2 separate regions of the Homo sapiens genome follow, and region 2 is linked to region 1. Evidence: fine-mapped expression QTL. A gene starts in region 1. The other region holds a variant in brackets. All regions are shown on one strand. Distances are from middle to middle.

What was found. PIP is the estimated chance that this variant, and not a neighbour inherited with it, causes the effect. A credible set is the group of variants that fine-mapping cannot tell apart.
Region 2: its variant is the best candidate, but not a certain one, in a credible set for the expression of TBC1D20 in whole blood (INTERVAL, PIP 0.65).

Annotation. Positions count from the first base shown.
Region 1 is chr20:459,361-464,746 of GRCh38, forward strand. It overlaps TBC1D20 (TBC1 domain family member 20), which reads right to left and starts at 3,173. Exons shown (of 8, transcript NM_144628.4): 1 at 2,976-3,173. The coding sequence starts at 3,045. RefSeq lists silencers at 2,556-2,704, 2,773-3,262, 3,543-3,612.
Region 2 is chr20:517,435-522,820 of GRCh38, forward strand. The region is part of intron 2 of CSNK2A1 (casein kinase 2 alpha 1); the gene reads right to left. Among named protein-coding and RNA genes, the nearest start is that of CSNK2A1, 24 kb to the right of the region's middle. The variant C/A (reference allele first, on the strand shown) is at 2,234.

The sequences.
Region 1 (5,386 bases):
AGAATGTATGTCATTCTAATCTCCCTCAATCCTTTCTTCTCCAATTTCTTTATTGCCCCACTTACAAGATAGTGCACTATTATTCCAAAGCTGATACCTTCCAAATTCCTTTATAGTAGAGGTCTTGGCTATCATAACCATGATGGAACGAATGACCGTCCTACAGCTGGCTGCAAAATATAAGACTGCTATAAATAAATCCCTGATGCCTGAAAAGTAATTCATTCAACAAAGGAAGATAGGTATGACTTTGGCCTACTCTTCATTAGAACGCTTATTTTTATTTATTTATTTATTTATTTATAAAGAGGGCAAAGCAGACTTTATTTGAGGGGCACCACAGCAATAGGTATAGCAACAACTGCAACAGGGTTTTGTAGTCAGGGAGGGAGATCAGACTCAACTCCCTAAAATGCTAATTTTAACAATGGGACACTTCATCTGAACTGTGGTTCTTAATGGTTCAGATAAAGATGACACAACCCACTATTGGCTTAAACTTCTCCCAACTCTGGCTACAGAATCCAGGTAAAGATTTCTGCCCCCTCAGAGTAATAGGCATGTCCAAAATCACCTGGATTAGGGCACTTAATACACTGGGAAGGGACGATAACAACTAAAGATGACCACTATCCATGCCTCCTCTAAAAGTTTTTTCATATATTTTTTCATATCACCAAAACAAATACTAACTTGGATCAACTAATTTATATAATGGAATCTCGTGTGAGCGTACAAAATTCCATACTGATTATTTGGTTTAAGCCTGCATTATCATAAAGGCTTTACAGTCTTTAAACTGAAATTAAGCTCAAATTAAGAAATGCTAGTCTTAAAACAATGGAAGGGGGGGGCCGTTTTGTGTGGAGGGAGGGAGACAGACATACCCCTACACCCACCCACAACTACTGATATTGACATTGGAAATTAACTTGAAAATTTATGCCTGTAGTCCCAGCTACTCAGGAGGCTGAGGTGGGAGGAGCACTTAAGTCCAGGAGTTGGGAGATGACAGTGAGCTTTGACTGTGACACTGCACTCCAACCCGGGTGACAGGGCAAGATCCCATCTCTCAAAAAAAAAAAAAAAAAATGCTTTAACTCCACGTCTGTACCAGAAGACCACAGCAGGAGAGGAAAACCTTATTTCAGTCTGGGTAAGAGTTCTATTAAACACAAAATAAAACAAACTAGCCTCTGTTTCTGGAGGTCTTCATTAGTAGTTTCTACAAAACAGTATCCAAATTAGCAAAGATTCTGTTAACTACCTGGAAAAAGCAGGTACCAAGAAAGAATGTTTCACTACAATGGAAAAAAACAGTCTAGTAAGTAAACCAATCTGACTATAAACGCTACAAAAGAGGGATTCTAGCATTAGTAACTTTGCCAACAATACTCTGATATGATTAAAAAACAAAACAATAACAAAAACAAAAAACCTCATCTTTAAATTTGTCCCATTCATCCAGAGAAGCAAAATCAAGGAAACTAGAGGGGGTAAAGTCTTGCAACAGATACACAGCTGCACTGCCAACAGGTCACAAGACCCATGCTGCCTAGGGCATTGACTGTTATGCCATGAGGACAGACATCACACAAACACCAGTAATTAAAGGGTTACGGTGCCAAAGGGTTCAGAGCTCCACTTCCATTCAGTATCAGAACATAAGAAAAAGGGAAAAACAGAAAATGAGCCCAAATAAAATATAAAATAAAATATAGATACCAGGAGCTTCCTCAAAATATGTGGGTTGTATTAATAACGTGTTTGGCTCTGTTACGGGCACCATCCATCAGAGGACTGGAAATAGGGAAAGTCACCTTAGTCTTCCTCAAGGAAAAAAGATTATTTAACTTGGTTCACGGTGTACATTCATAATTTTAACTGTCATGTATTTATTGAATGAAAAACATTTGAGAACATCATGTGCAACAAAAACATGATTTCACAGAAATTGTCCAAACTAAAAGAGTATAAAAATAGAAGCGCTTTTTATACAATTATTTACTTATTATTATTATTGAGATAGGGTCTCCATCTGTCACCCAGGCCGGAGTGCAGTGGCGCAATCATAGAGTAGCCTCTAAGTCCTGGGCTCAAGCGATCCTCCTGCCTCAGCCTCCAGAGTCGTTGGGATCACAGGCTCGAGCCTCCACACCCGACTAACTTTTAAAAACTTTTTGTAGAGATGAGGCCTCGCTGTGTTTCCCAGCCTGATCTCGAAATCCTGGCCTCAATCGATCCTCCAACCATGGCCTCCCAAAGCGCTGGGATTACAGGCGCGAGCCATGGTGCCCGGCCGCTTTTACACAATTGAATAACATTAAAATAGGTGGCAGAAGACAGACAGAAAGTCGATTCGTGGTTGCCAGGCGTCGTGAATACCGGGGAACGCGGAGTGCCTATTAATGGGTAAGGGTTTCGTTTTGGAATCAGACAGCGGCGATGGCTGCACAACTTTGTGAATTTTCTAAGAATCACTGAACTGTGCACCTTAAAGGAAGAACTGTGTGGTAATTACATCGGCGGTACGCGGGCAGCGCGTCAATCAAGCCGGCGACGGTGAATGCAGTTCGGGAGAGCTGATACCCCTCGGGGAGGCGGCTCCGGGAGCCTGCGGACGTGGCGGACGCCTGGGACGGGGTGGGCCTGGCCTCCGCGCTCGAGGAGTCCCAGTCCTCTCCAGATGGAAGAAAGCCGGGGCGCGAAGCCGCCGCCCGCTCTTCTGCCTGGGGACGCGACTCTGCCGCCAGGCTCCCTCGGGTCAGCTCGGCACCCGCCCGAGCCCCCCCAGTTCCAGGCCCTCTCCTCATCAGACGTGCCCTGGGCCCTCAGCCTGTTCCTCTCGCCGCCCGGAACCCCGCAGCAGCCCCGGGTCCCCAGCCCGCGCCCCTCCGGCGCCGCCTCCGCCAGCTGCCCCTGCCCCCCGGGCCGCCCTCGCAGGCCGCTCCCGGCGCCCCGGTCGGCTTCCGTACCTGCCTTCTCCGCGCCGCCGTCCCAGTGGCCGGAGGTGGGGCCGTCGCCCTGCGCACTCCGGAGGGCCATGCCCCGGGGCCCCGGGCCCCCACCCGAGCCCCGGCTGGTGGCGGAGCCGGGAGAAGACGCGGCTCCGACCGCGGGACGTAGCACCCGCTCGGCATCGGCAGGCTCCCCTCCGTCGGCCAGCGGCGCGCAGGCGCGCAGGCGCCCCGCTGGCCCCGCCCCGCGCCGGCACGTGACCCTGCGCTACGCCCGGCCGGCGGCGGGGGAGGCTGCGGAAAGAGCGCGGTGAGCGCTCTGAGGAGTTGGCTTCGTCTGCGCTGTAGACTCTACGGTGTAGAGTGTGGCGCTCTTGAGCGAGTGTGCTCGAGACCAGCTGTCGTTTCCTTTGCTTCTTTCATCTGTAAAATAGTATTGATGATAATAAAAATATTGAACTCACAAGGTTATTGAGAGTGTTTAGAACATCACCAAGCATATAGTAAATACTCCACAATTATGACCAATTTTTGCTTACCAAGGATTATTTTTTTACCTCCTGTCTCGTCTCCCCACACGAACTCCTGTCATCAGTTCTTGGGTACTTGGGGATCTAGCAGGTTCATGTCATACGGGTCCGCAGGTTATGCACTGCACAAGGCCTGGGAGCGCCATTTACGTAGACGTTCACGTGAACCGTGCCCCCTTAAGTTGTGCGAAATAGTGGCCACTCATCTAAAGCAGCGCTCTGGCTTATCAGGTCTGATTTCCTTCTCGTCTTCAGTGATATTCCTTTCTTTCCAATTAGACATCCATTCCCTTGGTTATATCCCTGATATTGTGATTGTGGCCTCCCGAATTTCTAGTGCTAGGTCTTCATGCTGAAGTTCCCATAATTCCAGTTGCTTGATGACTCTCTTCCACCTCCCACCCCCAACCACAACAGTTCTTTATTATCCTGAGACCTCCAGCCCATGAAACTCCTGACCTCGTGATCCGCCCGCCTCAGCCTCTCAAAGTGCTGGGATTACAGGCGTGAGCCACCGCGCACAGCCAAGTTTTACAGTTCTATTCATAAATCTAGTAAATTATATCAGTTATTTGGTCCCATTAATAAACTAAGCTAATTAAAATCCTTTGAACATTTGAAACTGCATTTATAAATTCAATTCGTTTTTCTAAGTATCACAGGTTTCTAACAAAGCCTTTCAAGTCCTTGTGTAATTCTTGTAAATGTAATACATTTATAAGAATACTGAGTCATGAGTGCTTTCAAATGTGTCAATACAAACGAGATTTCATCTTAAAATCAAAAGTCTAAATCTATTCAAATACATATTTGTAATTAGTACAAGAATAATCTGTTAGAATTCTCAAAATTATCTTTTTTTTTTTTTTGAGACAGAGTCTCACTCTATCACCCAGACTGGAGTGCAATAGCGATCATAGCTCACTGCAGCCTCAAGCTCCTGGGCTCAAGCTAGCCTCCTGTTGCAGCCTCCCGAGTAGCTGAGACTGTAGGTACACACTACCATGCCTGGCTAGTTTTTTTAGTTTTTATAGAGGGGGTGGGGAATCTCCCTATGTTGCCCAGGCCGGTCTCAAACTGCCTTCGCCTCCCAAAGCTCTGGGATTACAGGCGTGAATCACAGTGCCAAGCTCTTGAAATTATCTTGAACATTATAGGAATTTAAAGTATCACATTTACACAGATGCCTTAATGCAAAATTATTAATACTAGAAGTTTGAAAACATTTCTAGTCTTTGTTCTAAATCATCTGTGAGGCTCATGCCTGTAATCCCAGCACTTTGGGAGGTGAAGGGCTGCAGATCACTTGAGGTCAGGAGTTCAAGACCAGCCTCACCAACATGGTGAAACCCCATCTCTACTAAAAATACAAAAATTAGCTGGGCATGGTGGTGCCTGCCTGTAATCCCAGCTACTTGGGAGGCTGAGGCAGGAGAATTGCTTGAACCTGGGAGGCAGAGGTTGCAGTGAGCCAAGATTGCGCCACTGCACTCCAGCCTAAGAGACGGAGTGAGACTCCATCTCAAAAAATAAATAAATAAAATGAAATAAATCATCATTGAGGTTAAAAGATGCTTAGTGCCCACTGAAGGAAGATTTAAGTCATCCCAGTTTAAGAGTAACGTGCTCAAGCAATTTGAGATATTTATTCCCTTCTCAGTTTACTGCGCTGGTCATCCAGCCAGCTGGATTCTTGCTTTTGGTAGTGATGGAACAGTGACCCCCACCCCATTCCCACCACCACAACTCTAGGACTAAACAGTTGTGTGGTCGTTGTGAAGCTTGGGCCAGAATTTACTTTCAAAAAATGTCCCGCTTCATGTATAATATAAAGACCTTACAATAAATTCCCATTTCTTCCCTCCTGTTCTTCTTGCTGTTGTCCTACATTTTACTTTT
Region 2 (5,386 bases), 58 kb after region 1:
TCTCTGCCCTCAGACAAAGAAAACAGACCATTACAATCTCAAGTGATCAGTGCTTGAAACAATTAAGTCATGGTGGTGTACAGACGTTGAAGGGTATTTAAACTATCACCAACCCATCATTCATTCAACAAATATTTATGGAGTACCTAAAATGGGGAAAAACTGTAAGAGAAAAAAAAAACTGCACTTAAAGTACGCACAGGAATTATTCAGATGGAAAACATTAAAACAAGAAATTGCAAAGCGTAACACTTTAAAGCAAGTTAAGAATTTTAAAGACCTATAATTTTGCACCCTAAAATGACCAAAGGCTGGCACATTTTGTTATCTTCTATAAGAAACACATCATTGGATGCCACATGCAACGTGGCATCAGGTGTAAAAAAGCACCTGATGTGCTTTTTTTGCACATCAGGTCAGCAACCTTTTTATATCTGATTTGGAGACTATTAGTTTACTCGACTGTTACCATTTTGTGCTTAAAACAAACAGTATCATTAATTCACAAGCTTTGGAATTCTTTCTCTTTATTTTCTTTTCTCTACTTCCAACACTAATCAGTTCCTTGTTGCCCAAGCTGGAGTGCAGTGGCACAATCGTAGCTCACTGCCACTTCAAATTCCTGGGCTCAAGTAATCCTCCCACCTCAGCCTCCCAAGTAACTGAGGCTACAGGCATGTGTCACCACACCTGGCCCACTCATCTTTAAATAAGACAGAGAAGTAATTATAGCCAAAAGGGAATAGAAAATGCAAACCCAGAGATATAAGCAAGCAAGGAAGCCTGGAAAGCCTTTGTTGATCCTGAAAATTAGAATTTTGTTCTCACATAAACCAAAGCCCAGGGCTCTCACAAGACAAAAAGTCTAATAGGAGGCCCTCTTCATAAGGTGGGACTTCAGAGGCATACTTCCTAATGGTGAGAGTGACTAGGGAGTGGAAGATCCAGGGAGGAATTAAAGCCCTACTGAAGGGAATATCATATCTTAAGCTTGTTTTAAGGTGGTCTCTGGATTAGTGCCCATGCATACCTGATATAAGCAAGCTCTCCATGGAGGAAAGTACCTTACTGTGGGCCTCAAATGATCACTACAAATATCTATTTTTATTTTTATTATTTTTTATTTTTTTGAGACAGAGTCTCGCTCTGTCACCCAGGCTGGAGTACAGTGGCCTGATCTCAGCTCACTGCAAGCTCTGCTTCCTGGGTTCACGCCATTCTCCTGCCTCAGCCTCCCGAGTAGCTGGGACTACAGGAGTCCGCCACCACGCCCGGCTAATTTTTTTTTTTTTTTTTTTTTTAAGTAAAGACGGGGTTTCACCGTGTTAGCCAGGACGGTCTCGATCTCCTGACCTCGTGATCCACCCGCCTTGGCCTCCCAAAGTGCTGGGATTACAGGTGTGAGCCACCGCACCCAGCCAATTATTTATTTTTAAATACAATGTCCTAGCAGATCTCAAAAAACAAGAGGAAAAATATAGTGAAATCGTTGGATATACTTTTTTTTTTTTTTTTTTTTGCCACAAAGTCTTGTTCTGCCACCCAGGTTAGAGTGCAGTGGCACGATCTCAGTTCATTGCAACCTCTGCCTCCCAGGTTCAAGTGATTCTCCTGCCTCAGCCTCCAGAGTAGCTGGGACTACAGGTGCATGCCACCATGCCCGGCTAATTTTTGTATTTTTAGTAGTGAGGGGGTTTTGCCATGTTTTGGCCAGGCTGGTCTTGAACTTCTGACCTCAAGTGACCCGCCCATCTTGGCCTCCCAAAGTGCTGTGATTATAGGCGTAAGCCACCGTGCCCAGCCAGTTTGATATACTTTTAATTGGTACTAGCAGAAAAGAGAATGGGATAAAGGCAGTAACTGAAGACAGTTGAAAATATCCCAGAAGCAATCAGACACAATCAAATTCCAGAAGCAAACAATTTCCAAACAAGATCAATAAAAAGAAATCCAAAACCAAACATATAATTACAAAATAGCAGGAAAAAACAAAGATGAGTTGGGTGTAATGGCACAGGCCTATAGTCCCAGCTATTTGGGAGGCTGATACAGGAAGATTGCTTGTGCCCAGGAGTTGGAGGCCAGCCTGGGCAAAACAGCAAGACCTTGTCTCAAACAAAAACAAAAAACTAAAGACAAGCAAGTACAGAAAAAGGCAGATTATATTCAAAGAGCAACATTAGAACAGCTGATTTTTCAAAACCAACAATGAAGCCAAGTAGTTTAATACCTG[C/A]AGTGTGCTGAAAAAAATAAATAGCCGCCAAATTAAAATTCTGTTATCAAGCAAATGTCTCTAAAGAAAAAAGAAAAATAATCCCATTTTGGAAGGTCTGAGTTGAAAGAAAAAATAAAGAGCAAAAAAGAGGAAAATTTACAGACAGCTCCAAACAAACACTGATTATACAAAAGAATAACAATACCTTGAGGAGCTTTAAAACATAGAATACATAACAATAAAAACACAGTGTATTGAGGAGATTTCAAAGTATTCTTTCTAAAGGTCTTTTATTATATGAAAAGAAGATAAAATTATAATATCAGGTTTTGCTAAGTTATAGCTGCAAGTCACAAGATGTATGACAACTAATTACAGAATAAAAATAGCATATATTTCCAAACCAGAAAGAGGGAAAAGTAAAATCATAAAAAGAATCCAAAAGAATGTTAAGAAGGGAGAAGAAAAAAATCTAGAACATAAGAAGCATAGGGGAAGAAAGTTGAATTGGAATATGATTAATTATATTAAATATAAGTGGAATAAATTATCCAGGTAAAAGACAAAGACTATCATATCAGACTGGATTAAAAAAGAAATCCAAATGAACCAGAATAATCCAAACAATTCTGAAAAATAATAAAGCTGGAAGAATTATACTAACTGATCTTAAACTTATTACAAAGCTATAGTTGTCAAAACAGTGTATTGGCAAAAGGATAATACATAGATCAAGGGAACAGAATAAAGAGTACAGAAATACACTCACACAAACAAGGCCAATTAATTTTTGACAAAGGTACAAAGGCAGTTCAATGGAGAAAGGACATATATACATATATATATAAATATATTATGTATTTTTTTCGAGATAGGGTCTGCCTCTGGTGCCCACGCTGGAGTGCAGGGGCATGATCTCAACTCACTGCAACCTCCGCCTCCTGGGTTCAAGTGATTCTCCTGCCTCAGCCTCCAAAGTAGCTAGGACCACAGGAGTGTGTCACTATGCCCTGCTAATTTTTGTATTTTTAGTAGAGACAGGGTTTCACCATATTGCCTAGGCTGGTCTCAAATTTCTGAGCTCAACTGATCCACCTGCCTTGGCCTCCCAAAGTGCTGGGATTACAGGCATAATAATCTTTTCTATAAATTGTTTTGGAAGACTTGGAGATCAATATGCAAAATCATAAACTTTAATCTAAATCTCACACTTTATATAAAGATAATTCATAATGAATCACAGATATCAATGTAAAACTTGGGTCAGATGCGGTGGCTCATGACTGTATAATCCCAGGCTGGGTGACAAGGCAAGACTCTACCTCTGGGGGGGAAAAAAAAAGATATAAATGTAAAATTATCAAACCTTCTTGCAACCAGGGGTTAGGCAGAGTTTGAAGACATGACACTAAAAGCATGGGCTGTAAAACTGATAAACTGAACTTCATCAACGTTAAAATATTTCTGCTCTGTGAAAGACACTATTAAGAAAATAAGCCAGACACAAGAAGAATGTATTTGCAAATCACAAATCGAATAAAGAACTTGTATCTGTAACATTAAAAAACTCAATAAGAAAACAGCTCAATTTAAAAATGGGCAAAAGACGTGAACATACACACCACAAAAGAAGATATACACATAAGTATATGAAAAGATACACAACACTGCCAGACAGCAGGGAAAATGAAATTAAATCATACAACTACCACTACAGATTTATTAAAATGGCTAAAATTTAAAAAAACAGAAAACAAAACTATACCAAAAGCTGGTGTGGATGCAGAGTAACAGTAACTAATACATTCCTGGTAGGAATGCAAAATGGTTTTGGAAAACAGTTTGGCAGTTTCTTATAGAGTTAAACATGTACTTAAGCATACAACCAGCATTCCCACTCCTAGGTATTTACTCAAGAGAAACGGAAACCCGTATCTACACAAAAACTTATACACAAACATTTAAGGCAGCTTTATTCATAATTGTGAAAAAACAGAAACAACCAAGGTGTCCAACAGTTACATGAACAAACAAATGGTTTGCCATGTGATGCTTAGCAATAAAAAGGAACAAATTACTGATTTGTGCAACAAAATGGATGAATCGTTTTTCTTTTTTTGGTAGAGACAGGGTCTCGCTTTGTTGCCCAGGCTGGTCTCAAACGTCTAGCCTCAAGTAATCCTTTGGCTTCAGTCTCCCAAAGTGCTAGGATTACAGGTGTGAGCTGCTACACCTGACCAACATGGTGAATCTTAAAAGTGAAGAAGCCAGAAACAAAAGCCTACATATTGTATACTTCCATTTATATCAGGGGTCCCCAATCCCCGGGCCATGGGCCTGTACCAGTTCATGGCCTGTTAGGAACCAGGCTACACAGCAGGAGGTGAGCAGCGGGAGTCACTCGCATTACTGCCCGAGCTCTGCCTCCTGTCCCATCAGCAACAGCATTAGATTCTCATAGGAGAACCCTATTGTGAACTGCACATGTGAGGAATCTAGGAGGTGGAGCTCAATTTTTCTCCTTTAAGGAAAGGAAATAAGTAAGCATGGAAAGAGAGCCTAAATTTCTCCCTTTCCATGCTTATTCATTACAAGGGTATTCCTAAGTCCAATGGGCTTGGAAAGGGAGAAATAGCAACTCTACAGTAGAAAAACCTGGCAGACTTTACTGAAATATCACTAGTGTTAAGTCACTTTGACATCATATGCCCCTGATATAATGTGATGAGAAGGGCACTTCACCTCTGTGGTAGTCTTCTCAAAAATCCATAACCACAATTTAATCTTGAGAAAACATCAAACCTGTATTGAAGGACATTCTATAACATACATCACCAGTCTTCTTCAAAAGTTTCCAAGTAATGAAAATTAAAGACAGACTAAGAAGCTTCACAGACTGGAGGATACTAAGGAGACATGATGACTAAATTAATGTGGTATCCTGGACTGGCTCCTTGAACAGAAAAAGGATACAACTGGTAAAATCCAAACAAAGCCTGTAGTTTAGTTAATAGTATTATACCGATGTTAATTTCTTAATTATTTTATTTATTTATTTATTTTTAGAGATGGGGTCTCACTTTGTCACCCAGGCTGGAGTGCAATGGTGTGATCCTAGCTCTCCCAGTTCACAGCAGCCTCAAACTCCTGGGCTCAAGCGATCCTCCTGCC